Linked DNA regions of Homo sapiens. The protein of the gene in region 4 purifies or fractionates together with the protein of the main gene of each other region. This does not show direct contact. Each region holds a gene or a part of one and is shown on either strand. Other genes may lie near its edges. The genes, in order: TAMM41, PDXDC1, TTK, FAM174A, LCLAT1, ABHD17B and SAMHD1.

The links.
Region 1: the proteins of FAM174A (region 4) and TAMM41 purify together in Homo sapiens (affinity purification with mass spectrometry; 2 studies listed by BioGRID and IntAct, with this or other methods). This does not show direct contact.
Region 2: the proteins of FAM174A (region 4) and PDXDC1 purify together in Homo sapiens (affinity purification with mass spectrometry; 2 studies listed by BioGRID and IntAct, with this or other methods). This does not show direct contact.
Region 3: the proteins of FAM174A (region 4) and TTK purify together in Homo sapiens (affinity purification with mass spectrometry; 2 studies listed by BioGRID and IntAct, with this or other methods). This does not show direct contact.
Region 5: the proteins of FAM174A (region 4) and LCLAT1 purify together in Homo sapiens (co-immunoprecipitation; 2 studies listed by BioGRID and IntAct, with this or other methods). This does not show direct contact.
Region 6: the proteins of FAM174A (region 4) and ABHD17B purify together in Homo sapiens (affinity purification with mass spectrometry; 2 studies listed by BioGRID and IntAct, with this or other methods). This does not show direct contact.
Region 7: the proteins of FAM174A (region 4) and SAMHD1 purify together in Homo sapiens (co-immunoprecipitation; 2 studies listed by BioGRID and IntAct, with this or other methods). This does not show direct contact.

The regions. Positions count from the first base shown.
Region 1 is NC_000003.12:11,812,386-11,815,885, forward strand, and holds part of TAMM41 (phosphatidate cytidylyltransferase, mitochondrial isoform a precursor), read right to left. Parts: intron 1-3,500. UniProt on the Homo sapiens protein: Catalyzes the conversion of phosphatidic acid (PA) to CDP-diacylglycerol (CDP-DAG), an essential intermediate in the synthesis of phosphatidylglycerol, cardiolipin and phosphatidylinositol.
Region 2 is NC_000016.10:15,016,526-15,020,025, reverse strand, and holds part of PDXDC1 (pyridoxal-dependent decarboxylase domain-containing protein 1), read right to left. Parts: intron 2,907-3,500; coding exon 2,858-2,906; intron 2,706-2,857; coding exon 2,604-2,705; intron 1,187-2,603; coding exon 1,061-1,186; intron 1-1,060.
Region 3 is NC_000006.12:80,039,149-80,042,648, forward strand, and holds the end of TTK (dual specificity protein kinase TTK), read left to right. Parts: intron 1-547; coding exon 548-724; intron 725-1,047; coding exon 1,048-1,132; intron 1,133-1,457; coding exon 1,458-1,555; intron 1,556-2,970; coding exon 2,971-3,054; 3' UTR 3,055-3,379; downstream 3,380-3,500.
Region 4 is NC_000005.10:100,534,009-100,538,173, reverse strand, and holds the start of FAM174A (membrane protein FAM174A precursor), read right to left. Parts: upstream 2,801-4,165; 5' UTR 2,644-2,800; coding exon 2,210-2,643; intron 1-2,209.
Region 5 is NC_000002.12:30,530,746-30,534,245, reverse strand, and holds part of LCLAT1 (lysocardiolipin acyltransferase 1), read right to left. Parts: intron 1,131-3,500; coding exon 932-1,130; intron 1-931. UniProt on the Homo sapiens protein: Exhibits acyl-CoA:lysocardiolipin acyltransferase (ALCAT) activity; catalyzes the reacylation of lyso-cardiolipin to cardiolipin (CL), a key step in CL remodeling.
Region 6 is NC_000009.12:71,908,394-71,912,396, reverse strand, and holds the start of ABHD17B (alpha/beta hydrolase domain-containing protein 17B), read left to right. Parts: upstream 1-1,203; 5' UTR 1,204-1,763; intron 1,764-1,880; exon of another isoform or gene 1,881-4,003. Other genes in the region: uncharacterized protein C9orf85, read right to left, coding at 561-662. UniProt on the Homo sapiens protein: Hydrolyzes fatty acids from S-acylated cysteine residues in proteins. Has depalmitoylating activity towards DLG4/PSD95. Has depalmitoylating activity towards GAP43. Has depalmitoylating activity towards MAP6. Has depalmitoylating activity towards NRAS.
Region 7 is NC_000020.11:36,913,709-36,917,208, reverse strand, and holds part of SAMHD1 (deoxynucleoside triphosphate triphosphohydrolase SAMHD1), read left to right. Parts: intron 1-159; coding exon 160-260; intron 261-378; coding exon 379-487; intron 488-3,500.

The DNA.
Region 1 (3,500 bases), on a different chromosome or scaffold from region 4:
TGAGTTGTGCTACACATCCTGAATCAATCACCATTACGCTGTACTATATTCCCAACTGGCAGAAGACATGGGCCTGGGGACCAAGGGTAGAAAGAGAAGTGACCTTGCTTATCGTCATTCCCAGGGACCCACTTGGGAACACTTTGCTTCCTATCACTACAGCTCTAGATCTGTGGGTCTAGAGGTCCCAGTTCCCAGAGAAGGGATGCTTCTACCAGAGGACATAGTAAGCATCCCATTAACTTTAAGTTACGACTGCCACCCAATTAATTTAGAATCCCATGCCGTAAGTCCAGCAGACAAGGCAATGAGTCACTACACTGGCAGAAGCAATCGGCCCTGGTCATCAGGAGCTGGGGTGCTGATACACGTCTCTTAGAGTACCCCTTGCCCAATTTTGATGGTTAGTGGACAAGTGCGGTAGCCAGGGTCCTCCAGACTCCTCCGAGATGAGGGTCTGGGCCACCCTGTCTAGATAAGCAGAAGTGATAGATGAGGGTGAAGGGAATCTGGAGGAGTAGCAGAGATGGGAGAAGATGAGTCTCAGTTGCAGCCTCAAGGCCAGATACAGCACTGGGAGCTGTAGCTCAGTCCCCCAGTCTTATTCTTGTAAGTTTCCTGGGAAAAGAAACTGATGCGAAACTAGATCATGCAGGCTTTTATAGGCCATAGGGAGGATTCTGGATACCTTTATTTTTATAGTTAGAGAAAATTCCTAGCCCTTTTCCCTTGTTCAGTTTCTAGAAAGTTGGTAGACAGACACATTATACTTCCCTGTCCTCTAGCCAGAGAATAGAAGATCTCTGGAGAAATTCTACAGACACTGATATTTGAGATCCTCCAATAAAACAGCTAGGTCCTTGGCCAGGTGCAGTGGCTCACACCAGTAATCCCAGCACTTTGGGAGGCTGAAGCGGGCAGATTACTTGAGGTCAGGAGTTCAAGACTAGCTTGGCCAATATGGTGAAACCTCATCTCTACTAAAAATACAAAAATTAGCTGGGTGTGATGGTGCATGCCTGTAGTTCCAGCTATTTGGGAGGCTGAGGCACAAGAATCGCTTGAACTTGGGAGGCGGAGGTTGCAGTGAGCCGAGATTGCGCCACTGCACTCCAGCCTGGGCAACAAAGAAAGACTCCATCTCAAAAAAACAAAACAAAACAAAATAGCTAGGTCTTTGCCTCATAATCCTATAGTCAAGCCCACCAGTTGACAAGCCTGATATATCACAAAGAACTTCCAGCCTGTATTTTAGTGCCTCATTCTTTAAAAACAGGCCAGAGCCAGGAACGGTGGCTCTTGCCTGTAATCCCAGTACTTTGGGAGGCCAAGGCAGGAGGATCGCTTGAGCCCAGGAGTTCGAGACCAGCCAGGGCCAACAAAGTGGGACCCTGTCTCTACAAAAAAAAATTTAATGTCTCAGATCATATGGGTACAAATATATGTGTGTGTGTGTGTGTGTGTGTGTGTGTATGTATGTATATATATGTATATATGTATATATGTGTATATATGTATATATGTGTGTATATATGTATATATGTGTGTATATATGTGTATATATATGTATATATACATATACACACATACACACACACCTGTGTATACACACACACACACACACACACACACACATAAAAAAATCAGCTGGGCATAGTGGCATGGGCCTGTAGTCGCAGCTCCTCAAGAGGCTGAGGTGAGAGGATCACTTGAGTGCAAGAGTTCAAGGCTGCAGTGAGCTATGATCATGCCACTATACTGTAGCCTAGGTGACAGAGTGAAATCCCCTCTCAAATTGATTAATTCATTAATTAATTTAAAAAATCAGGCCAGGAAGGAAACTCAGACATTTGAAAAAAGCTTCTAACATAACAGACTAGAGTAAAAACAGACAAGAGGAACTAAGAGAAAGAAAACAGTGTGAGAGAACAAGACAAAATCTTCAAAAGTTATAATAAAGATCATTAAAGAGATTAGGAGAAAATAATGCATCCATAATACAAGAATAGGAAGCTATAAGAAAGAACATTTTGGGAAAATTAAAAATTTAGTAGAAGTGTTAGAAAACCAATCAGAAATATTCTCCCATAAAGCTAAATTTAATAAACGAAGAGACGAGAGAGAGAGAGAGAGAGAAAGGAAAAAAGGTTAAACCAGGAGGTCTAGCAACCACCTAACAGGAATCCCAGGAAGAACAAACTAAGAAAATGGGTATGAAGAAATAATTACAGAAATAATAAAAAAAATTCCTTAGAATTGAAGCTTATAAAATTCCAGATAGAAAAGGCCCACTGAGGCTGGGCGCTGTGGCTCACACCAGTTAACCCAATACTTTGGAAGACCAAGGTGGGAGGATGGCTTGAGCCCAGGAGTTTGAGACCAGCCTGGGCAATATGGTGAAACTGTTTCTACTAAAAACACAAAAACCAGCCAGGCGTGGTGGCGCGTGCCTGTAGTCCCAGTAGTTACTCAGGAGGTTGAGGTGGGAGAGTCACTTGAGCTTGGGAGTTTGAGGTCGCAGTGAGCTGGGATTACGCCTCTGCACTCTAGCCAGGGCAACTGAGCAAGGCCCTGTCAAAAAAGAGAAAGAAAGAAAAGAAAGAAAGAAAGAGCCCACCAAGTGACTGAATAATGAATGGAAAACAGACATAAATAAAGAAGGAAAATTATCTCCACCCTAGAATTTGATATCTAGCCAATACTATCTATCAAAGGGAGGGTAGAATTTTCAGAGGTATATAGTCTCAAAAACTTGCCTCCCTCACACCCTTTAAGAAGGTAATAAAAGACAAACTTCACTAATATCAGAGTATAAACCGTGGAAGAGGAAAATGCAAGACCCACAAAACCAAAAACTAGCACGGGGGAGGCAAAGGGAATTCTCAGGGTGATAATGAAGGGAAGGTGGAGGAGTGCGGCTGTGCAGTGAGCTAGAAAACAACCAGTTGAGAAAGGAACAGGGCAGGGGGCTCCAGGAAAAACATTCCTGTGAGAAACAAGAAACAGAAAATACCCAATAAATCTGTCTATAATGGGAAGAGTTTTACGGATCTGTCAAGAGTTTGAGGATGACTGACCTAAGCAACTGAAAAAATAAGACAACTATTAACTCCAGGAGAAACAAAGTTGTACAGGAAAAGGAACTTCATAATGCCACAGCTCATCAATAAAGAAAAGGCTGTCACAATAAAATAAACATTGAATATTAAGCTAACAAAAAATATGAAGTAACTTTATGTGAAGCATGAGGGCGTGAGGTAGAAGGGGAAGAGAATGTGTGTGCTAAGTGCATGTGTGTGAGTGTGTAATTGGTATAAGAATTGATGGGGTAGTGTAAGACGGTAAAAAAAATCCCCTTCTTCCAGGATGGCAAAAATAAAGTGTAAGATTGAAAAAAAATCAAGAAATAATAGTCGAAGCATATTATTTAGAACATGGAGGTGAATATCAGAAGAATCAGCTATAGAGACGAAAGCAGCTGCCTCTGGTAAGCAGGGCTG
Region 2 (3,500 bases), on a different chromosome or scaffold from region 4:
ATTCTCCGGCCTCAGCCTCCTGAGCAGCTGGGACTACAGGCGCCCGCCACCACGCCCAGCTAATTTTTTGTATTTTTAGTAGAGACGGGGTTTCACCGTGTTAGCCAGGATGGTCTTGATCTCATGACCTTGTGATCCACCCGCTTCAGCCTCCCAAAGTGCTGGAATTACAGGCGTGAGCCACCATGCCCAGCCTGTTTTTTTGCTTTCTAAATGCTATGATCTGAATATTTATGTCCCCACAAAATTCCTATGTGGAAACCTAATCGCAAATGAGTTGAGGCCTTTGGGAGGTCATTAGGGCATGAGGATGGAACCCTCACAAACAGGACTAGTGACCTTCTGAAAGAGGCTCAAGGGACTGTGCTCACCCCTTCTGCCATGTGAGGCCACATGCAAGGCACTATCTATGAGGAACGGGCCCGACATGGAATCTCCTGGCACCTTGATCTGAGACTTCTCACGTCCAGAACTGTAAGCAATAAATGTCTGTTGTTTATAAATTACCCACTCTAAGGTATTTTGTTATAGAAGCCTGAATGCTCTAAAACACTGAAATATAGCATAATTATATATTTTTCACAATTAGAACACACCTAAAATGGAGAGAGAATTAGAATTGTCCCCAAGAGCCCTGCAATTTGGAAACCCAAGCCAGCTGGTTTATAAAATATCCATGCCCTCCATAACCACCTTGTAACCTTCCTATTCCCTCACCGTAGTCAGTCAATCAAGGGGAACACTCGCTCCCCACCCCTCCACCTTTTGCACCCTTCTCCACTCCTTGGAAGTCATCTGTGACTTCTTTTCTGATCCCATGCTGACAGTGGTGTTCCTTTTCATCTGATTTCATCTGCACACAAATGCTGGGACAGACAACCCAGCACTTTCTCCCAGAACTTTGAACAAGAAATATTTACATGCAGGGCGATTAGTCTCTGGCTCACGAGACAGTCAATCCAGACAACACCACTCTGGATGGAAGGTACAGAAATGAGATGTTTTTCTGTCTCTGCTGTGGCCAAGGAGTCTTTCATTTAAATGTCAGGCTTCTACTCACCAGTTGACAGGCATGCTTGATCCTCTCCACAAACCCATCAAGTCCCAAGTATTGTAAAGATAACCACAGAGGCAGGGCACGGAGTTTGTCTGTGGGCTTATTTGATGTAAGACCAGCAACTAAAGTCTAAAAAAGCCAAAAGAGGTTTATTAATCAAAGCCATTGCAATCTCATAATAGAACTAACCAGCTACCATTTGCTACCCACTTAGTGTGGGCTAGATGCCATACTAGTCACTAGGCTTGCATTATCCATGTGATCTTCCAACAACTCTGTGAGCTAAGTATTCTAGGTAACTTCACTCAGAGACCTCGGTTTGTCCAAGGGTTCACAGCTCAGGAGTGGCAAAGCCAGGAAAAGCCAGTGGAAAACCCAGATGGGTCACATCCCAGAACCTAGGAGACTCCCCACTTCGAAGGTAGCTCTGAGCATCCTCAAACACCTGGCCATTATTAGCTGAGCAAGACAGCAGTGTTTTAGCAGAAATCACTTAAACCTTATTTTGCACGCTGACCTATATTATCAAGAACCACATTATTATTATTATTTTTTGTGACAGGTTTCGTTTTCATTCTGTCGCCCAGGCTGCAGTGCAGTGGTGTGATCATAGCTCACTGCAGCCTTGATCTCCAGGGCTCAATCAGCCCTCCCACATTAGCCTCATGAGTAGCTGGGACTACAGGCTCACACCACCATGCCCAGCTAATTCTTTGTTGTTGTTTTTTCTTATAGAGATGAGGTTTCACCATGTTGCCCAGGCTGGTCTCAAACTCCTAGGCTCAAGCGATCTGCCTGCCTCAACCTTCCAAAGTGCTGGGATTACAGGCATGAGCCACCATGCCTGGCCCACAACTACGATTAAAAAAAAAAAAAAATGTGGCCAGGTGTGATGGCTCATGCCTGTAATCCCAGCACTTTGGGAGGCCGAGGCAGGCAGATCACCTGAGATCGCGAGTTCAACATGACCAACTTGGTGAAACACTGCCTCTACTAAAAATACAAAATAAGCCGGGCGTGGTGGCGCATGCCTGTAATCCCAGCTACTTGGGAGGCTGAGGCAAGAGAATCACTTGAACCCAGGAGGTGGAGGTTGCAGTGAGCCAAGATCATCTCACCATTGCACTCCAGCCTGGGTGACAGAGCGAGACTCCATATCAAAAAAAAAAAAAAAAAGTTAAAACCTATTGGGCAATGTGGATCAGGAGGCTTAAAACTCCCCCACTCAGTCATTCCACATCTGGGAACCTATTCTAAGGAAATAATTAGAAACACAGAAAGACGTTCACTGCTTCATTATTTCAGTAACAAAACTCTGAAAACATCCTATAAGTTCATAAATGGAGAATAATTAAATTGTGACAGAATATTATACAATCATAAAATGTCATTAAAAAAAGTCTCACAAGTTTCTCTTTAAAAAAATGAAATAGAAGTGAAATTATGGGTATTTTTCACTTTTTCCTGTATTTTTCTGGATTTTGCCCCCAAAGCCAATAATGTGTATTAGCCACACCCACTCCCTCCCCAGTGAGTGGAAACTTACCAAGGCAGGGTCATCGTGTTTATACAGTGTCACCGCAGGAACAGCTGGCAAACCCAGCCACGGGCCAGGAGTCATCGTCATGCTATCACATTTGGCTGCAGCCTACCAAAACAAGAACAACTCTTTGTTAGATTATCAGAATACACAAACCTAACACCCTCCTCCATTCATAAAAACTGTGAAGAGCCATGAGGGACTGAGTGACTTTAAATTCATTCTTAAAAACACCAATATTCAGTAAATCAACAACATACCAGCACTGATGAGGAGACATAACCCAGAGCCAATGTTGCCAGATTCACACTGGAAGAAAAAACACCAGTCCAAGAACTAATTATTTAATGTTGCTTACTCACCATGTACTTAAAAAAATAAAGGCTGTGCTGTTGCAAGTTGACACTTAAGTATATTTTTAATGTTATTAGCTTTCATTAACAGCAACAGAAGGTGTGCTTTATACATATGAAGGAAAATCCTGAAAATGCACTTTAATAAAAATGTGTCTCAGGAACTATCCCCGCTCATTTAATATAATGGGAGTATTCTTCTCTTTCATGGATCTTATTTTCCAGTTATCATTCTTTACTTAGGGATCAAAAAGAAACCTCCCTGTATGATGTGGTGGATATGGGCTACTCTGGCTGCCCACGTCCGTTCCCCCTGCTTCTCTTAATGGCCCTACAATAGCCTTCCAGGGCGCCATCTCCATTTCTTCCAGCAGAACATGAGCTTTGTGGGGAGGAGACACCACTATCTGCTCCAGAGGAGAGCAAAGAACCTCAACTATCAGAGGATTACTTCTCCCTGGCCACAGTGGCTGGTTCAATACGAGACTTCTGTTAGGACTTCCAGCTGACCACGAAGCTGGAAAGAAGGCTGGAGTTTCTGCAGCTACTT
Region 3 (3,500 bases), on a different chromosome or scaffold from region 4:
ATTGCTAACTGAATTAGTTTTTTACTTTGAAGATGTTTTAAAGCTTGTAAATACTTGAGGATTTTGGACACAAGCTCCGCATAGTTCTATAGTATATGTGCTTGGGTTTAAAGTTGTATTGCTTATTTATTATTTCCAATGGTCTTGTCTGAAGGGTTGCATAATTTAAGCAACCTTTGAAACTGTATACATACTTTGTACTTATATAAAAATTTATTATAATCCAGTAATTCTGGGGAAAACAAACTTAAAACTTACATTTTTTAATTTTATATTTTCACAAGTTGGGAAGAATTTAATATTTTGTCTTAATTGCAATATTTTAATTATGAGGTTATAGAAAGATTTAAAGTAAAGCTCATATCTTCTGATGGAATAACCAACTGAAATGAAAACTAGAAAAAGATGTTTTGTCATGTTAACATAATGTAGTACACATTCATTGAGATTTAATTATGATTTTAAATATGTATATTTAATATATATGTTTTTTCATTTTATATGAAAATAACAGCAACTTTTTTGTGTTTGTTTGTTTTTTTCTTAGATAAGCCCCAAAAGTGATGTTTGGTCCTTAGGATGTATTTTGTACTATATGACTTACGGGAAAACACCATTTCAGCAGATAATTAATCAGATTTCTAAATTACATGCCATAATTGATCCTAATCATGAAATTGAATTTCCCGATATTCCAGAGAAAGATCTTCAAGATGTGTTAAAGGTAATATTAATTTCATGTAACTAATTATTTACTTAAAAGAAATAGTTGAAATAATTGGAATTATGTAACTGGCTTAGATATAACTGTTCTATTCAAAAGAATTGCTAACTGAATTAGTTTTTTTACTTTGAAGATGTTTTAAAGCTTGTAAATACTTGGGGATTTTGCAAAAGTGCCTTGGGAGAAATAATCTTGTCATAATACTTTAGTGGGATATCTAAAAAGTAACTTTTATAATATAATGTAATCTGGAAAAATACTTTATCAATATCATATATGAAAACCTGCTTTGTTTTTCTTTTAAAATATCTTTGTTTTAATAGTGTTGTTTAAAAAGGGACCCAAAACAGAGGATATCCATTCCTGAGCTCCTGGCTCATCCATATGTTCAAATTCAAACTCATCCAGGTACTACTTCTTTAAAAATTTGTTTATTACTAGATTGGTAGTATAAACAGTCTGTTACCTATTAATATAACAAAGACAGAATCTAAATTGGCTACCCTTTGTCAGCCTGCCTTTTTCCTTAAGGAAGTTCCATTATTATAAATAGTAAAGTAAATAAACTTTTTTTTCTTTACTTCTGGTATTTATTTTTACTTATTCCAGATAACGGGTTATAATCAGTGATAAATTATAAGAATATCACTTTGTGCTATTAAACAAAATGTGTATTTACAATGGACTTATATTTTTCTTACTGGTACTAGTGTATTATTGATTTATTTTATAGTTAACCAAATGGCCAAGGGAACCACTGAAGAAATGAAATATGTTCTGGGCCAACTTGTTGGTCTGAATTCTCCTAACTCCATTTTGAAAGCTGCTAAAGTAAGTATGTCTATTCTTTACATTAATTTTTACTGTTTTATATAGTGAATTCGACACTTAAGGAAACAGGTAGTCTGAAGAAAAGTTGGTCCAATCATCAGATCAGTTATGAAACATGTTTCTACATTTAGATACTTAACATGTGCATTTTGACAAATATCGATTTACTTGATTTATATTCTTCTTCTGCATACAGTACAGTTCAAAGTAGATCATCACATAAGGTGCATTCAAAAGATTGCTGTCACGTCTCAACTGGAATACATTTAATATAGGAATATAGTGTGTCTTTTAATTCAGCACCATTATTAATACAGCTTTTGAATTCATTCCTTTTAGCCAGTTTTTTCCTTAGAGACATTACATGTAATGGCTTTTTTGAAGCTGTACACAGCAATCAACACAATTCTCAAAGCACAAGTCTCAAGCTTTTTAGCTTCCCAATGTCCATTTATATCTATACCATGATTTTTCAAACACCTAGTTATTTCTAGAACCCTGTGAATGCTTATTGACCAACTGATTTAGCCAACAAGCAGTTACTAATTATGTATTTCAGTTACAACATTATCATAAAATTATGGGAACCTAAACTATCAATACTCGTAGCTCTCTGGATACATATAAAATCCATCTAAGTTGCCAAGAACTTGAATACATTTTTTGAAGGAATTTACTATATATTCACTATATTTGCATTTATATGATATGAGGTACCTGTTTTCTTAAATTTTCTCAAATGCTAATGGCTAAATCAATGGATTTAGTAATTAAAAGTGGACCAAATTTGTTTTGTAATTGCTCTGTATTTTGTATCTCCATGTTTTAAGTTTATACTAATATATTATTCAAAGCCTCTTATAGCTATAGTTGAGGTGGATTATTTTTATAACTGAAGTTGTATGTTCCTTGAGGGCAAAGATGTCTGCCATCTTCATAAGTTAGATGTTAGCTGAGTCTTAAATCATTTTTAAATACATGGATTTTAATATATATCTAATTATTATATTTATATAATTTGTAATGTCTTCTATTTATTAGCTTATTATCATCTGAGAATATAAAGTTTCCTAATAAATATATTTTGTATAGGAATTTACCTAAGACTGGCTTTATTTAAGAAAAAGTAAAGAGATAAAGAAGGCCTTGAAGGCTCATATGTATGTTTATTAGTAGCTCTGTTATATTTCTCTCATAGAAAGATTGAGTTATATCTCATGATAGGTAATGCTTAAGGCCAAGCTTCGTGTTTAAAATTCTTTATTATCTCTAATAGTTTATAAAATAATTTCCCAACTGTAAGAACAAGAGAGAAATAAATGTATTATATTTAGAATACATCAAAATACATCTACTGATGTGACAGTACATTTAACTAAAAAATTGCAAAACAGATTTGTGTTTTTTAATTTCAGACTTTATATGAACACTATAGTGGTGGTGAAAGTCATAATTCTTCATCCTCCAAGACTTTTGAAAAAAAAAGGGGAAAAAAATGATTTGCAGTTATTCGTAATGTCAGATACCACCTATAAAATATATTGGACTGTTATACTCTTGAATCCCTGTGGAAATCTACATTTGAAGACAACATCACTCTGAAGTGTTATCAGCAAAAAAAATTCAGTAGATTATCTTTAAAAGAAAACTGTAAAAATAGCAACCACTTATGGCACTGTATATATTGTAGACTTGTTTTCTCTGTTTTATGCTCTTGTGTAATCTACTTGACATCATTTTACTCTTGGAATAGTGGGTGGATAGCAAGTATATTCTAAAAAACTTTGTAAATAAAGTTTTGTGGCTAAAATGACACTAACATTTCAAAGTTGTAAGGTTGTTTTCTTTAAGCAAATGTATTGTTGGCATGGCAGCAAAATTCTTAATTAGTAAAAAGTAGATTAGGGAAGATGTGAGACTAGACCTTAGTAAATGAACTTTGAAA
Region 4 (4,165 bases):
AGTTCGGAACACTGCCCAGACATTGTTAGCATCATTCAAGCTTTGGATGCCAGGCAGCCAACTAAATGTAGGACTTGGACTGCATGAATATGTTAGATGCTGGTTAAAGAATGCACTTTTTATTAGCCATAGTTCAGAATTTGGCTGTTAACACACATCATGTTACCAAGTCATCCAATAGGATCATATTGGAAGGACTGTATCTGTCCAAGTTTTACAACATTAATGACAGAAAATCAATGGTAATAAATATGTGTATTTAAAATAATTAAAAAGGTGGAAGCAAAAGGAAAAAAACAAGGAAGGAATATTCCCCCCAAATTATCATTATACTTATCATTTTTATGTATAAGAGATACAACATTCAAGGGGCCATGCATTTTTATAGGAACTATGTACAGACAGCAGTAAATAACAGTTATATAGTGAGGAAAATAATTTGTTTCAATATTCTTTTAATCTTTCTTTATATTAAGAAGAAAGTCTCAGTTTGGTGGTAATATGCTTTTAACACTTAGAGTGTGAGTGCAGATTTGCTAGCCTTTGTGAACCAACAATATCTAGCTCAAATAATATTTCTTACAGCTGTGGTTCTCAAATATTGCTTACGCCTGCTGTTTTGGATTTCTTTACATTCTTAAAATTGTTCAGGAACCCAAAATAACTTATATTTATGTGAATTACACATATCAACTTTACCATATTAATTAAACTTGAGAAAACCTATACTTATCAACTGATTTAAAATAATAGTAAACACATTACAAGTTAACATAACTTTTATGAAAAACAACTATATTTTCAAAAAAGAAAAAAACGTAAAAAGAATGACATTTAGATTCTTATTTCCAATTCCCTTTAATATCTGGCTTAAGGTGATAGGAGTAGATAAAAAATAGAAACAAAAAATAGGAAATGGATAGATTTTTATATTTACTTCTGCATTAAATCCTTTGCAATGTGTTGTTTGGTTGAAGCATACAAAGTAATTCCATCTTCGCACAGATATAAACTTGGAATGGAAAGAAACATTTTAATAGCCTTTTTATATATGAGTGGTTATTCCTTTATGATACTACTACACCAAAACTTGACAAGCAGTTTCTTAAAGATTAGTTGCAATGTGGAATCTGAAACAATATCAATGAACTACTTGTACCCTATAAGCCTGTAACAGAATGTATTATTTTGAAAATAGTTTTAATACTGTAGATGCCCTGAAGAGGTCTAAGTGAAACTCCCACCTGTGTGGTTCCCTGGCCCACATGTCAAGAACCACTGGCTTACACTATTTTTTAACTAGCCAAGTGATGTTGGTTTTCCATTCATGATAATAACGACTTGTTTAAAAGGAAACTTTTGCTTTAAATAATCAGTTTAAAGAAATATGTTAAATTACAATACAGAGGGTATTTATGGGAAAAACGTGAATTTTGAAAACAATAAACAAACATAAGCTGCAAACCTACCCTCTACACTTATTTTATAATGAAATAAACTGCTAGACAGCTTTCCCTCACCTTATCTCTTTGCTGGCTTCTCCTAATGGTGAGGTCTTGGCTCTGTATGTCAACTCTTCAGGAAGGTGATTCTCTGCCACTTAGGTGGCAGATTAAAGGGCAATACTAGGAAACACTGATAGTAAGGAAGAACTTTTCTTCTCCTGAATTTTATAAAAATAAAATATCCATAAGGCACCTCTATATTACTATTAATCCACTCAAATATATATTGATTTCCTATTAAGTGGCAGCATTGTACAAATAATTTGTAAGACTCACAAACCTACTAAATAGATATCCTGTCTTTAAAGAGTTTGCATTCTGATTGGCAAAATTTTGACCAGTTAGGTATACAAAAATTTAGACTAGAAAGGTAGAAGTATTACAAGACAGAGTAGTCAAAATTCTAGGGAATAAAGATTATCCTCACTTCAGAGAAAGGGTGCCCTTTGAGGCTGACGTGGGTTGTAGGTCAGATGAAGAGATTTGGAGGTAGGGCACTCATTTATAAACAAAAGGCAGCAATTAGTTATAGGTTTAAATTGCTCCAAAGGTAACAGGCCTTTAAGAAAGTCAATATCATATTCTTAAGCAGGAGTCCCTGATGCTGGGGAAGGGGGAAAGGGTCACAGAAGTCAGCCTTGCTGGAGATCACCGGCCTGCGTATCTCAGGCCCACGGGGGTGCCCCACCGAGGCTTTGCCTCACCTGACCGTCCTGACCACGAAGTACACCAGCACCGCGCCGCTCACCACCATCAACACGGTCAGGGCCCGCTGGGTCATGGGCTTGTCGCCAGGGTTGGGGCTCACAGCAAGGCCGCCACCCACCGAGCCTTCCCCGGCCTTCCCTCCGTGATCGTCCGTCTCAAGCCCGGCCACAGGGTTGCTGCCATTGCCTCCCTCGGAGCCCCGCGGCCCCGCAGCTTCAGCCAGACCACGGCCCGGCTGCTGGGCAGGGGTAGGGCCCGGTGGCAGCGGCGGTAATGTCCGTGGTCTAGGGTCAGGAGGCCCAAGACCTGGCGCGGCCTCGGCTGCCTGCAGCAGGACTGCCAGGGGCCCGCTTAGTTCAGGCAGCAACAGCAGGAGGAGGACGGAAGCCAAGAGGTGGCTGAGACAGCAGCAGCACTGCGAGGCCTTCATCGTTCCCGGACCGCTCTCTCACCACCCGGGAGCCGCCAGGCCCGCCACGCTGGCTCCAAGAGGGACCATAGGCGCGGTGGAGAATGAAGCAGAGGTGACCAAACGCCAGGGAGAGGCCCGGTCGTGGCAGGTGGCAGAAGCTACAGCAGTGGCAGCTGCCCGGAGAACCGGAAGTTCGTACATCTCAGCGGCCACTGCTGCTAAGGACGCCTTCGGTTGCTAACTTGTAGGGGCGGATGCACTTGGTGACGTCAGAGGCCTAGCGCCCAGTGCGCACGCGCACTTGTGTAAAAAGCGAGGACGTGACCGTTTTGGAAGCATTGTTCTTTTCACTGTTAGTGAGGAGCGGTCAAGGATGCGTATTAAGAAAGTAAGTAGACAAAAAGAGATTGTGTAAAATGTACAGCAACTCTCTCATGCAGGAACCCTGAGAGATTGGAAACTCATAATCTGAATTCATTGGTGTCAAACTGCAATAACACATTTAATCTGTAAGCCAGAAGGGCTTAGTTTTCCTTAGCTTCATTACAAGCTTTAAGCAGGCTTTTTTTCCTGCCTATGGGTCCCTGACCTCCCTTTCTAAAGAGCATTTGCTTGTAATGAGTTCATGTCCTTTGTAGGCACATGGATGAAGCTGGAAACCATCATTCTGAGCAAACTATTAGAAGGACAGAAAACCAAACACTGCATGTTCTCACTCATAGGTGGGAATTGAACAATGAGAACACTTGGACACGGGATGGGGAACATCACACACCGGGGCCTGTCGTGGGGTAGGGGGGAGGGATAGCATTAGGGGATATACCTAATGTAAATGACGAGTTAATGGGTGCAGCACAGCAACATGGCACATGTATACATATGTAACAAACCTGCACGTTGTGCACATATACCCTAGAACTTAAAGTATATTAAAAAAAATTACTTTAGAAAACTTTACCATTGTAAGTTATTTCTCTTCCCTTTTCAGATGTAAATATTTTTTAAAGCTTCTGGCCAGTTATATAATTGAAAACTATCTCAAGGGTATGGAAAGCCATCATGCCTTTGAAATATAATCAGCAAGGAAGGTAGTGGGCCATCTCTTATTTTGTGTGAGAGGAAAGGAACCTAACTGTTGTAGGCTTCTCGCTTCAAGTTGTAAAACCACCTCCTGTCATGGAGGAGAAAATTTACTTTTCCTTTGGGTAAAGTCAATCAGCAAACTCAGGTGGCCGGTGATCTTCCCAAAATAGCTCTTAATAACTCTCCACTCCTTTTTTTCTTTTAGAGGAGTTGAGATTAGAAGAGTTTTATCCCCTTTCCCAACAGCAGTAGTCTTCAATAATGTCTTCCTTGCCTGTTTGACTTCAGTAATATGGAACTTCAATTTGTGCAGATAACTAGAAGTGGCCGCATGATGTACCTCTCACCAATGAGATGCCTGTCAAGGGTATACGTGGGTCTTTTGAGTAAGTTATTGTTTTCATTGCTAAAAGAGAGACAGATACAGGTAGATATATACAGAGAGAGAGCCAGAAAC
Region 5 (3,500 bases), on a different chromosome or scaffold from region 4:
CACACACACACACACACACACACACAGTAAATCAACTACAAACACCCTTGCTAGTCTATCCTTACTAGTCTATCCTGTGAGGGCCTGCCCTTTGCCCTCACAAATCATAAACCACGTCAGTATACTAATAGAGGAATGGTTTAAGAGGGTACATAGTTTAAGTGAGAAATGTTACCTAGGTAAACCACAGAAGTATAAATGTAATTAACAAGGCTGTCAGGAGGATATAGTGGGTACTTCATATACCCATGTGAATAACTGGTTTGAATATATTTATAATCTTTCCCCTCCCTTTTTCACATTAAGTAGCAAGTTGAGAAAGGAGGCCATTTATTTTTAACATGCAATGTTGAAATATCCCTACTTCTCCAACACACAATGAACATGTTGTATTCCTAGCCATTTAAAATAAACATTTCCAGGAACTTTAATATTATATTATACAAGCGCGATAAAAACATTTTTTAAAAAAAGTTATAGATTGGGGAAGTTCAGAAAGTACCAGCACCTAGCATAATGAATGCTTCGAACCTACATATTCAATTAATACTTACTACATGAATATGAATGAATCAGTCAATGTCAAGTACTTTATCAGCACAGACCAGTTTCTGGCCGAAATCACAAGTACTACCTGCAATAAAAAGTTACTAAACTATTAATTCATATCCTTCAATGCTGTGGTCCTCAGATACTATATATCCATTTCCTTGAGAACAGTTTATTTTCTCTTTCAGAGTAATATTTTTTAAAAACAGATTAAAATAAAGTCATCTGCCATAGCAGATCCACTAAAGACAAAAGAACCAGAGATTGTTTTTGGCCCAGTGAGGAAAAAAATGGAATCGCTTTAATGCTTAAGTCAGTTTTACAGTGGGTGCATTACATCTAAAATGAATGAACCACTTAAAATAATGTGTGAATAACCTACCAAATCCAGGAACACCTTTGAGACTCGCTTTGAGGCAAATTTTCTCCAATCTGAGGTAGCTATATCGCATCAGGCAATTCCACAGGAACATCCAGTCCATTCTTGTCCGATGGTTCATGATAATGACACTTCTTTCTCCAGGAACAAATGCATCCCCAGTTATAATCACTTTTACACCAAACATGGTCTCCAATAATGCCTAAGAAAACAATACAGATATACAGCAAATTAAAGTTATGATTTTCCATAGGTAAATTTTATCATGCCCTATAAATAAATCTTATGATTTCTAACATGTAAAAGTTAGTATTTCCCATGATCCTTGCTTCTATAATAAAAAATTGAGTGGTGAGGTTATCTAGAAGAATGAGAATATCAAGCACTATTTCTATTTTAAGCTTCTGTGATGTCCTAATTAAAAAATGCTGATTGTCCTTGAAATCAAGATATCTTATTAAGCAAAAAGTATAAAAGGTGAATATCAATATTCTACTGTGTAATATTTTAAGGATATAGATATGTAACATTATTACCTTTTTTTCTAGAAAGAACAGTCAAAGAATTAGCACTGGGTACAGGGGAAAAAAAAAAATCCCGGAAAGGTAAACTGTTCACTTTATAGCATCCTGTACTATGATGTTTTAAAAACAAAAACATAGATCTTATTTATTTTGACACTATGTAAAGAATAAATTAACTATACATCTACTAAAATACTACAAGCCTTAGTACCTAGAAAATAGTAATGTTCAAATAATTGCTGAATTTCCTTAATTTGCTTTTCTGATGGGCCAGGTATATAATACATATGAAGTATTTAGAAAAACAATATATTATAGACTTATGAGTTCTTGAAAGTAAAATAACAGATTACAATAAAAGCTGATTATTGATTTCAAACTCTTCTTTGAATTCTCAATTTACATGTAACAAATTTACTAGTTAATATTTGACTTATTAATAAAGAGAGAAATTGATCTAAAGGCAAATATACGATACAGAATCAAAAGTTCTCTTGGCGAATATCATGATAATCTTGAACAAGGTATAGCCAATAGACAAACTGTGGTATACTCATATAATGGAAAAATGATACAACAATGAAAGTAGATGAACTACAAGTACCTACAGCAACATGAAAGATACACAGAAGCATAATTTTGAAAGACAGCAAAACAAACAAAAATATATACAATAAATGTCAATATATAAGACTTTCTAAAAGATTAAGATATTTTAAAGATGATTATATAGATGCTAAAATTATAAAGAACAAGAAGAAAATAACTATCTTAAAAGTCAGATTAATGAATACTTCTACCAAAAGGAGGATGTTTTCATTGGAAGTCTAGGTAGCTTGCTGGAGAACTGACAATGCTGTATTTCTTGACCTGGTTGACAGTTACACGCAAAATTTTTCATTAAATTGTACATTTGTGTTTTAATAACTTTTCGGTATGTTTGCTATACTTCACAACAAAAAGGCATTTTTTTAAAAATGCAATATGAAACAGTAAGACTTTGAAAAACATAACAGGATCAATAAAACATAGGTTCAAAATAATATTAGCTAAAGAAATATACTAGAAAGTAAAAAGAAGTTAGAAAAGTTATATGTCCAAATTGTTACAGAGTCAAAGTGTTAACATCCTGATACAAAATCATTTGGGCTAAGTAGCTACAGATATCCCATAGGTCCATTAAGTTACTTTCCCACAGCTGAGGTTCACTTTCAGCATGGGTATTTAATCCAGTTATCTATTATGTCCTAGAACGATGGCCTCCAAGAGGTCAATAAAAATGTATTTCTCTTAAGCTGTATATAAAGATATGTCAATGTGTACACATACTTTGCTAGGTAAAATGCTTGCAGTTTTCATCAAATTTTCAAAAGGGTCCATAACCGCTCAACTAATTATAACCCCTACTCCAAAAAGTCCCTTGAAAGTGAAATACCTACATGGAAGACCTCCTGGTAAAAAGGATCATGGCAGAGTCCTACAGGTGTGGATCCACAGCAAAAAATGTCCCTTTTTCTTTTTTTTCTTTTGAGACGGAGTCTCACTCTGTCGCCCAGGCTGGAGTGTAGTGGCGCGATCTCGGCTCACTGCAACCTCTGCCTCCCGGGTTCAAGTGATTCTCCTGCCTCAGCCTCCCGAGTAGCTGGAATTACAGGTGCCCGCCACCACACCCAGCTAATATTTTGTATTTTCAGTAGAGACAGGATTTCACCACGTTGGCCAGGCTGGTCTTGAACTCCTGAACTTGCGACTCGCCCGCCTTGGCCTCCAAAAGTGCTGGGATTACAGGCATGAGCCACCGTGCCCGGCCAAGAGTTAAAAATCTTAAGCCTATAAATTCCAAACCTCAAATCTAAACCTATATATGCAATCTCTAATATATGATACCTATAGATCCCAAACAATCCTTTGCTTTTCATTATGAAAAATAACATAAAAAATCCAAGACTGGGATGGGTGTGGTGGCTCACATATGTAATCCCAGCACTTTGGGAGGCTAAGGCAGGAAGATCGCTTGAAGCCAGGAGTTTGAAACTAGCCTAGGCAAC
Region 6 (4,003 bases), on a different chromosome or scaffold from region 4:
GACTTTACAGAAGTCCTGCTAAAGATAAACAGCAAAACAAGTATTTTTACATTAACCAAATATTTTTATCTTCAAAACAATTGTTACAAAACAGAAATTTCACACAATACTAGTGAGGACAGCCTAAGACAGCTTAATCATTCACATTTCCTCTATGGGCTTGGGGTTTTTGGAAAAAAAAATCGTAGCTGCATAAACTTGGTGTAAAATTTGAAAAAGCCACTCATGCCACAATCCTCGTTTCCCTCTGCTAATGTGATCCAGATGGGAACGCTGAACGACGTAACTGCCCCATCTGCACCTTAGATTTCATTAGGGTCCTGTTCACTCTGTGCAATTAGTTAAGTGTGCTGACCATCAAATATTTACCAGGAGACAACATGTCCAGGTCAAAGAAAGGGCGTGAGAATAACATTTTAGAAAGAGTTGCACTGCAGCCAAGACTAACTCTGGGCTGCGGTCCACACTCGCCCCAGCCGACTCCTCTCATTTCCTCTCTCCCCTCTCCAGTGAGCCATTCCTTCCTGGAGTCAAAGACGGTGCAACAGGCAGGTTCCTACCTTGGTCTGCACACTTTTATCGAACTTGTCATTTTTGAAGCTAAACGTATTCTGGTGCTTCTGAGGTCTGGAACGAGCCACGTTGCCTTTCTGGGAGCTCATCGCCGAAATCAAAGCCACCCCTCGCCGGGAGCAGGCAAAAGGATGAGGGGAAAGAAAACCAACGAACTACTCCCAGGAATTGACGCTTCTGTCAATGACCCGGAAGAAACAAACGCAGCCTTTCCGCCCCGGCTCTGGGTCAGCCCACGTGACTCTTCTGGGAGGTCAAAGAGCATCGCTCTGCCCTCCCTGCTGTTAAGCCAAGCCACTCCACGCGGCGCAGCCTCGACCCCTCCGGCTCCGCGCAGCCTCTTTCTCAAACCCGGAGAACAAGTCCCACTTTCTTCGAAATGAGAATTCCCCCATTGGCCCGAATGTGTAGTCCATCAAATCAAAGGGGCGGGGAACCTTTGTTCCTATTGGTTCTTCTTTTCCGCAATCCCCGCCTCCTGCTGAGCGAGCTCAGCCTCTCCTTGAGCTCAGAGCGCCTCCCACCCTGCCGGGCGGCCTCTGATTGGTGGAAGTGAGGCAAGGCTGGGCTCCGTCTCTCCCCCCGCCCGCTAGTAGGCTGGAGCCGGGGTCAGCTTTGGCACCTTCCTCCAGTCAGTGGCCAACTCCTGGCTCAGTGGGGATTGTGCTCGTCCCCTCCGTTCCCCTCCAGTCTTCCTCCCGCTACCGGAACGAGCCTCGCGCTTGGCAGGCTGAGGAGGAGCAAAGAAAGCAGGATTAAAGAGAAGGAAGACCTGGCTAGGTCTGGGTGGCGTCTGCAGTGCCAGAAAGGGAGGCGGTGGCGGCGGCGGCTGCGACCACGGCCGCGCGGGACGTGAGGCCCGAGAGCAACCGACGGGCAGCGGCGGCCGCTCCAGCGCCCCGCACCGGGGCCGTTAGTCAGCAGAACGCGAGCTCTTGTGGAGGAGCAGGGCCGGCGCGAGGCGAGACTCGGGAGCGTGAGCGGGGCCCCTGGGGCGCCGCCGTCCTTCTTCGCCCCGGCGCCGGGGGCTGTAGCCCTGGTCCCCGCTCCTCTGTCGGGCCAGTCTGCAGGCGGAGAGAGTCGGACGGCGCCCGGAGCGCGGATCTCGCCTTGTGGAGGACAGCGCGTCGGCTGCGGTTCTCTCTCGACCCCTTCTGCCCGGCGCTTCGGCCCGGGCCGCTCAGGTGCAGGTGCGTGCGGCCTCGGGGTTTGGGGACGCCGCAGCCCGGCTCGGGGAGGGGGCGCTAGGCCGGGAGCCGCAGCGCGGGAGGGACGAGCCCGGGCCGGCGGGGGGAGGGGAGCGGGAAGCGTCTTTGTTGTTGGCGACCGGGATCCCTTCTCGGCACAGGGGAAAGGCGGGGAAGCCACTCCTCATCGGGTCTGTGTTTTTGAGAGGATTCTCTGATGGTTGCGTGAAGGGGAGCGGTAGGACAGTCCCTGCGGTCCGTGGAGCGGCCGGAGTCAGGGGGTGGGGGAGGGAGGACCGACCGACACTCTAAGAAGGTCTTTGGTCCTCCTCGGTGAAGAGAAGGGTTCCATTTCATTTCCTTTGCTTTTCTCTCAGTGGATGAAAAGATGGGGTCAGGTTCCCATTCCCCTCACTGGCGCACTGAGAGATTCGCGGGTGCCTAAAAGCTTTCTCCTGAATGTCCTTATATCTCTGTCGGGCGCGATTTTAGATTGAATCTGCACGGGGCTTGGCGATTTGTGTATTCCGGTGGGGCTGTCGTAGGGTTCTTTTTCTTTAGATGGTTGGGCTTTAATCTTATTTGTTTTCGAACTCTAAGGTAGGCTTATCAGGAATCGTTTTTGAATTGGAAAATTTAAAGGTTTTGTTTGGGATTTTTTTTAACCCCGAAACAAAGTTATGTCAAATTAGATTGTACTGTGTGGGGGCTCTCGTGAAGGAAAGAGTGTATTTAACCTGGGGTTTTTGTTTAAAAAAAAAAAAAGTTCAGATCTTTGATCTTTGGTGAGATCTCTGCCAATGCCAGAAGAGAATTTTTTGTAAATGATGCTTTAAGTCAGTGTGAAGTAGATTTGGTAAGCAAAAGGATGAATAACGGAATACAGAGGGTGACCTTTAAATTTCGCTGTTTATGAAATGTGTTCCTGTTTAATACTTTTTGTGATATATGATGCTTGATCTATAGATGATTCATTTGGAATTTTTTTATGCCTCTAATAAATCTTTGGAGATCTTGTGCCAACATATGAAACTATAATACCTAATGAGTCGGAGTAGAAAGCCAGATACATGTTGTAATAACGTTAATCTGTTTAGATTAACAGGGAAATTTACATTAAAATGAACTTTTTTCCGTAAAGAGTTTCTCTACATATGTTTATAGCATGAATTTCAGTTGGGTGACATCTAATGATAGCCAGTATTTTGAAAATTGTCATGATTGCTAGTATTCTAATTTGAGACTGCTCAACTTGTTGGTAAGTTTTTATTTGGAGAATAGGGGTCGTGTTACTTAAGGAACAGCAGAGGTAAAAATCTCTGTTGTGCAGTAATTGTCATATCATTTGAAATCCAGAAGGAAATGAATGGCACCTTCACCTATATTTTGACCTCTCTTTTCTCCTACTCTAGTGTTAATAAGGTTAATTGGCAAGGACAGGATTAGATTTTTAGCAGGCTAGGCAGTTTTAATTTTGTCCCTTAGTGTGCAGTATTCTAGTTGATGAGTAGCTTGTTTCCTTGAGTATCTTTGCCCATTTTGAAATGTTTATGAAATGACTGCTGACAAAGAATTTTCTGTTTCCTGGGACAAACAAAATCACCAAAAAACATCATGAAAAAATAATGTTTTTAGTAGCTTAATGAACACAGAAGAATTAAGCAATTAGTGTCTGTTCCAAGTTTGACACTGAATTGGTCTACAACTCCAGGCACGCTATCCCACATCTGAGTCAGTTTTCTCCATCTGTAATATAGGGCTGATAAAATGTGCCACCTGCTCACTTTATAAAAAGGGGAGTGAGAACCATGTAAGCAACAGTTACTCTGGTTATGTGACATTGATATAAGTTAAATGAGAATACTTTTTAATGCAGTGCTCTTACTTTGTTTTGATATTATGAATTTCAATCATTTGATGAACAGTTAGCATAAAGATAAGGAGAATGACTCTCCCTATGCCATCATTTAAGAATTAAAATTTCTTCCGTATTAAGATTGGTGTTAAGATCTTTAGAAGCAGTGATGACAAGAAAATAGAGTATATTTTATTGGTTGGTTTATTTACTGGTAGATTTTACTTCTGATTTATCCAAAGTTTTGCTCTTAATTCTGAAAATTCCCCCTACCCTTCCTACTCTTTAAAATTTCTCACATACATTGCCCCATTTGCCTGTCGAATCCAGCCTTGTGAGTTGGAGAGAGGGAAGGTGAGTTTGTGGCCTTTTTTTTTTTTTTTTTTTT
Region 7 (3,500 bases), on a different chromosome or scaffold from region 4:
ATGAAGTGGAAGAAAGAAAGAATAGAACCTTCTAGTTTATCTCATATTCCCAGTCAGGTATCTGTTTATATTTTACAGATTAATAAAATTGCTTTGCTTTGTTTATAAATAGATTTGGTGCCTATCCTAAAACTTCCAGTGGGTTTTCTTGCCTTCCAGTGGCCATATAAAGGGCGTCCTGAAAACAAAAGCTTCCTTTATGAGATAGTATCTAATAAAAGAAATGGCATTGATGTGGACAAATGGGATTATTTTGCCAGGTATGCACTGAACACTTCTGAAAAGTTGGCTAAAATATTTATATAAATTTAGTATTACTATTTAAGGTACAGCTTCCTTGTTGAAAAATTTCATCTCTCTGTTTTGGAATCCTTCTAGGGACTGCCATCATCTTGGAATCCAAAATAATTTTGATTACAAGCGCTTTATTAAGTTTGCCCGTGTCTGTGAAGTAGACAATGAGTTGCGTATTTGTGCTAGAGATAAGGTAAGCTGTGCCAGAGGAGGCAATAAGAAGAATGTTGTTCCTGGTCTGAAATTTGGAAATAACCATTTAACAATTTGGAATAATTGGTAAATCGTCAGTCTCTTTACTTAATTCCTAGGATTTGTAAATATCTTTAGTCTCTTCCCTTCTACTGCATTATTAAATAATAATAAAATTAACATGGACATTTATTAAGTTTTGAGTTAGACACTGGTTTTGGGGTTTTTTTGTTTGGTTGGTTGCATTTTTTTTTTTTGAAATAGGATCTCACTGTGTTGCCCAGGCTAGTCTTGAACTCCTGAGCTCAAGTGATCCTCCCTCCTCAGCCTCCCAAGTAGCTGGGACTACAGGTGCACACTATCATGCCTGGCTTGTATGAGGCATCATTTTAAGTGCTTTGGACGGATCAACTCATTCCGTATAACCCTGTGAGATAGATACTATTATTCCATTCAACAGGCAAGCAAATTAAGGCACAGAGAAGGCATATAATTAACAAGTGGTAGAGTTGGAATTTCAACCCAAAAAGTTTGGTTCCAGAGTCTCTCTCTTTTTTTTTTTGAGACGGAGTCTCGCTCAGTCACCCAGGCTGGAGTGCAGTGGCACGATCTCGGCTCACTGCAAGCTCCGCCTCCCGGGTTCACGCCATTCTCCTGCCTCAGCCTCCCTAGTAGCTGGGACTACAGGCACTCGCCACTATGCCCGGCTAATTTTTTTTGTATTTTTAGTAGAGACAGGGTTTCACCGTGTTAGCCAGGATGGTCTCAATCTCTTGACCTCGTGATCTGCCCGCCTCGGCCTCCCAAAGTGCTGGGATTACAGGCATGAGCCAAGGTGCCTGGCCCAGAGTCTCATTTTTAATCACTGTATTAGTGTTGAAAAATTTTATACAGTTGACACCTGAACAAAATGGTGTTTAGGGGTGCTGTCCCCTCTCCTAGTTGAAAATCTGTATAAAACTTTTCTTTACCTTTTTTTTTTTTTGGAGATGGAGTCTCCCACTGTTGCCTAGGCTGGGGTACAGTGGCATGATCTCGGCTCACTGCAAGCTCTGCCTCCTGGCTTCAAGTGATTTTTCTGCCTCAGCCTTGTGACTAGCTAGGTTTACAGATGCATGCTACCACGCCCAGCTAATTTTTGTCTTTTTAGTGGAAACAGGGTTTCACCATGTTGGCCAGGCTGGTCTCGAACTCCTCACCTCAAGTGATCCACCCGCTTCAGCCTCCCAAAGTGCTGGCATTATAGGTGTAAGCCACTGTACCTGGCCTGCATATAACTTTTGACTTCCCAAAAACTTAACTAAATAGCCTTCTGTTGACCAGAAGCCTTATTGATAACCTTAATGGTCAGTTACACACATTTTGTATGTTTTTTGTTTTCTTTCCAGACAGGGTCTTGCTGTGTTACTCAGGCTGGAGTACAGTGGCACTATCATAGTGCATTGTAGCCTTGACTTCCTGGGCTCAACTGATCCTTCCTCCTCTGCCTCCCGAGTAGCTGGGACTACAGGCCTATGCTTGGCTAATTCTGAAATTTATTTTACAGAGGTGGAGTTTCACTGTGTTGCCCAGGCTGGTCTCAAACTCCTGGGCTCAAGCAACCCATCCACCTCAGTCTCCTAAAGTGCTATGATTATAGGTGTGAGCCACTGCATCCAGCCTATTTTGAATGTTACGTGTATCATATACCATATTCTTTTTTTTCTTTTTGGATACAGGATCTTACTCTGTCACCCAGATTGGAGTGTAGTGGTGCGATCTCAGATCACTGCAACCTCCACCTTCCCAGCTCAAGCAAATCTCCCACTTCAGCTTCCCGAATAGCTGGGACCACAGGCGCATGCCACTATACCGGGCTAATTTTTCTATTTTTTTTTTTGTAGAGACAGGGTTTCGCTATGTTCCCCAGGCTGGTCTCGAACTTCTGACCTCAAGCAACTTGTCCTCCTTGGCCTCCCAAAGTGCTGGTATTACATGTGTGAGCCGCCACGCCCCATCTACTGTATTCTTACAATAAAGTAAGCTAGAGAAAAGAAAATGTTATTAAGAAAATCATAAGGCAAGGCCAGGCGTGGTGGCTCACACCTGTATTCCCAGCACTTTGGGAGGCCAAGGTGGGCAGATCACCTGAGGTTAGAAGTTCGAGACCAGCCTGGCCAACCTGGGCAACATGGTGAAACTCCGTCTCTACTCAAAATACAAAAATTAGCTGGGCGCAGTGGCGAGTGCCTGTAATCCCAGCTACTTGGGAGGCTGAGGCAGAAAAATAACTTGAACCCGGGAGGCGGAGGCTGTGGTAAGCCGAGATTGCGCCACTGCACTCCAGCCTGGGCGGCAGAGCAAGGCTCCACCTCAAAAAAAAAAAGAAAGAAAGAAATTCATAAGGCAGAGAAAGTATATTTACTATTCATTAAGTGGAAGTAGATCATCATAAAGGTCTTCATCCTCATCGTCTTCACATTAAGTAGGCTCAGGAACAGGAGGGATTGGTCTTACTGTCTCAGGGGTGGCAGCGGGGCAAGGAAATCTGTATAAGTGAACTCTCACAGTTCAAACATGTGTTGTTAAAGGTCAACTGTAGTTAAACAGCTGAAATCACTAGGTCCCTGTTAGATGGCAGTCATGTAATCAAAAAGTAGTATAGTACTATACTATAGAAAGTCAAGAAGGGCTAGGCGTGGTGGTACATATCTGTAATCCCACTACTTCGCAAGGCTGAGGTGGGCAAATCTCTTGGGCTACCGAGTTTGAGACCATCCTGGCCAACATAGTGAAACCCTGTCTCTACTGAAAATACAAAAATTAGCCAGGCGTGGTAGCATACACCTGTAATCCCAGCTACTCAGGAGGATGAGGTACGAGAATCGGTTGAACCTGGGAGGTGGAGGTTGCAGTGAGCCAAGATTGTGTGCCACTGCATTCCAACCTGGGTGACAGAGCGAGACTGTCTAAAAAAAAAAAAAAAAGTCAAGAATGAAGAACATAAGAATAGTAATACCTATTTCCTAGAGTTA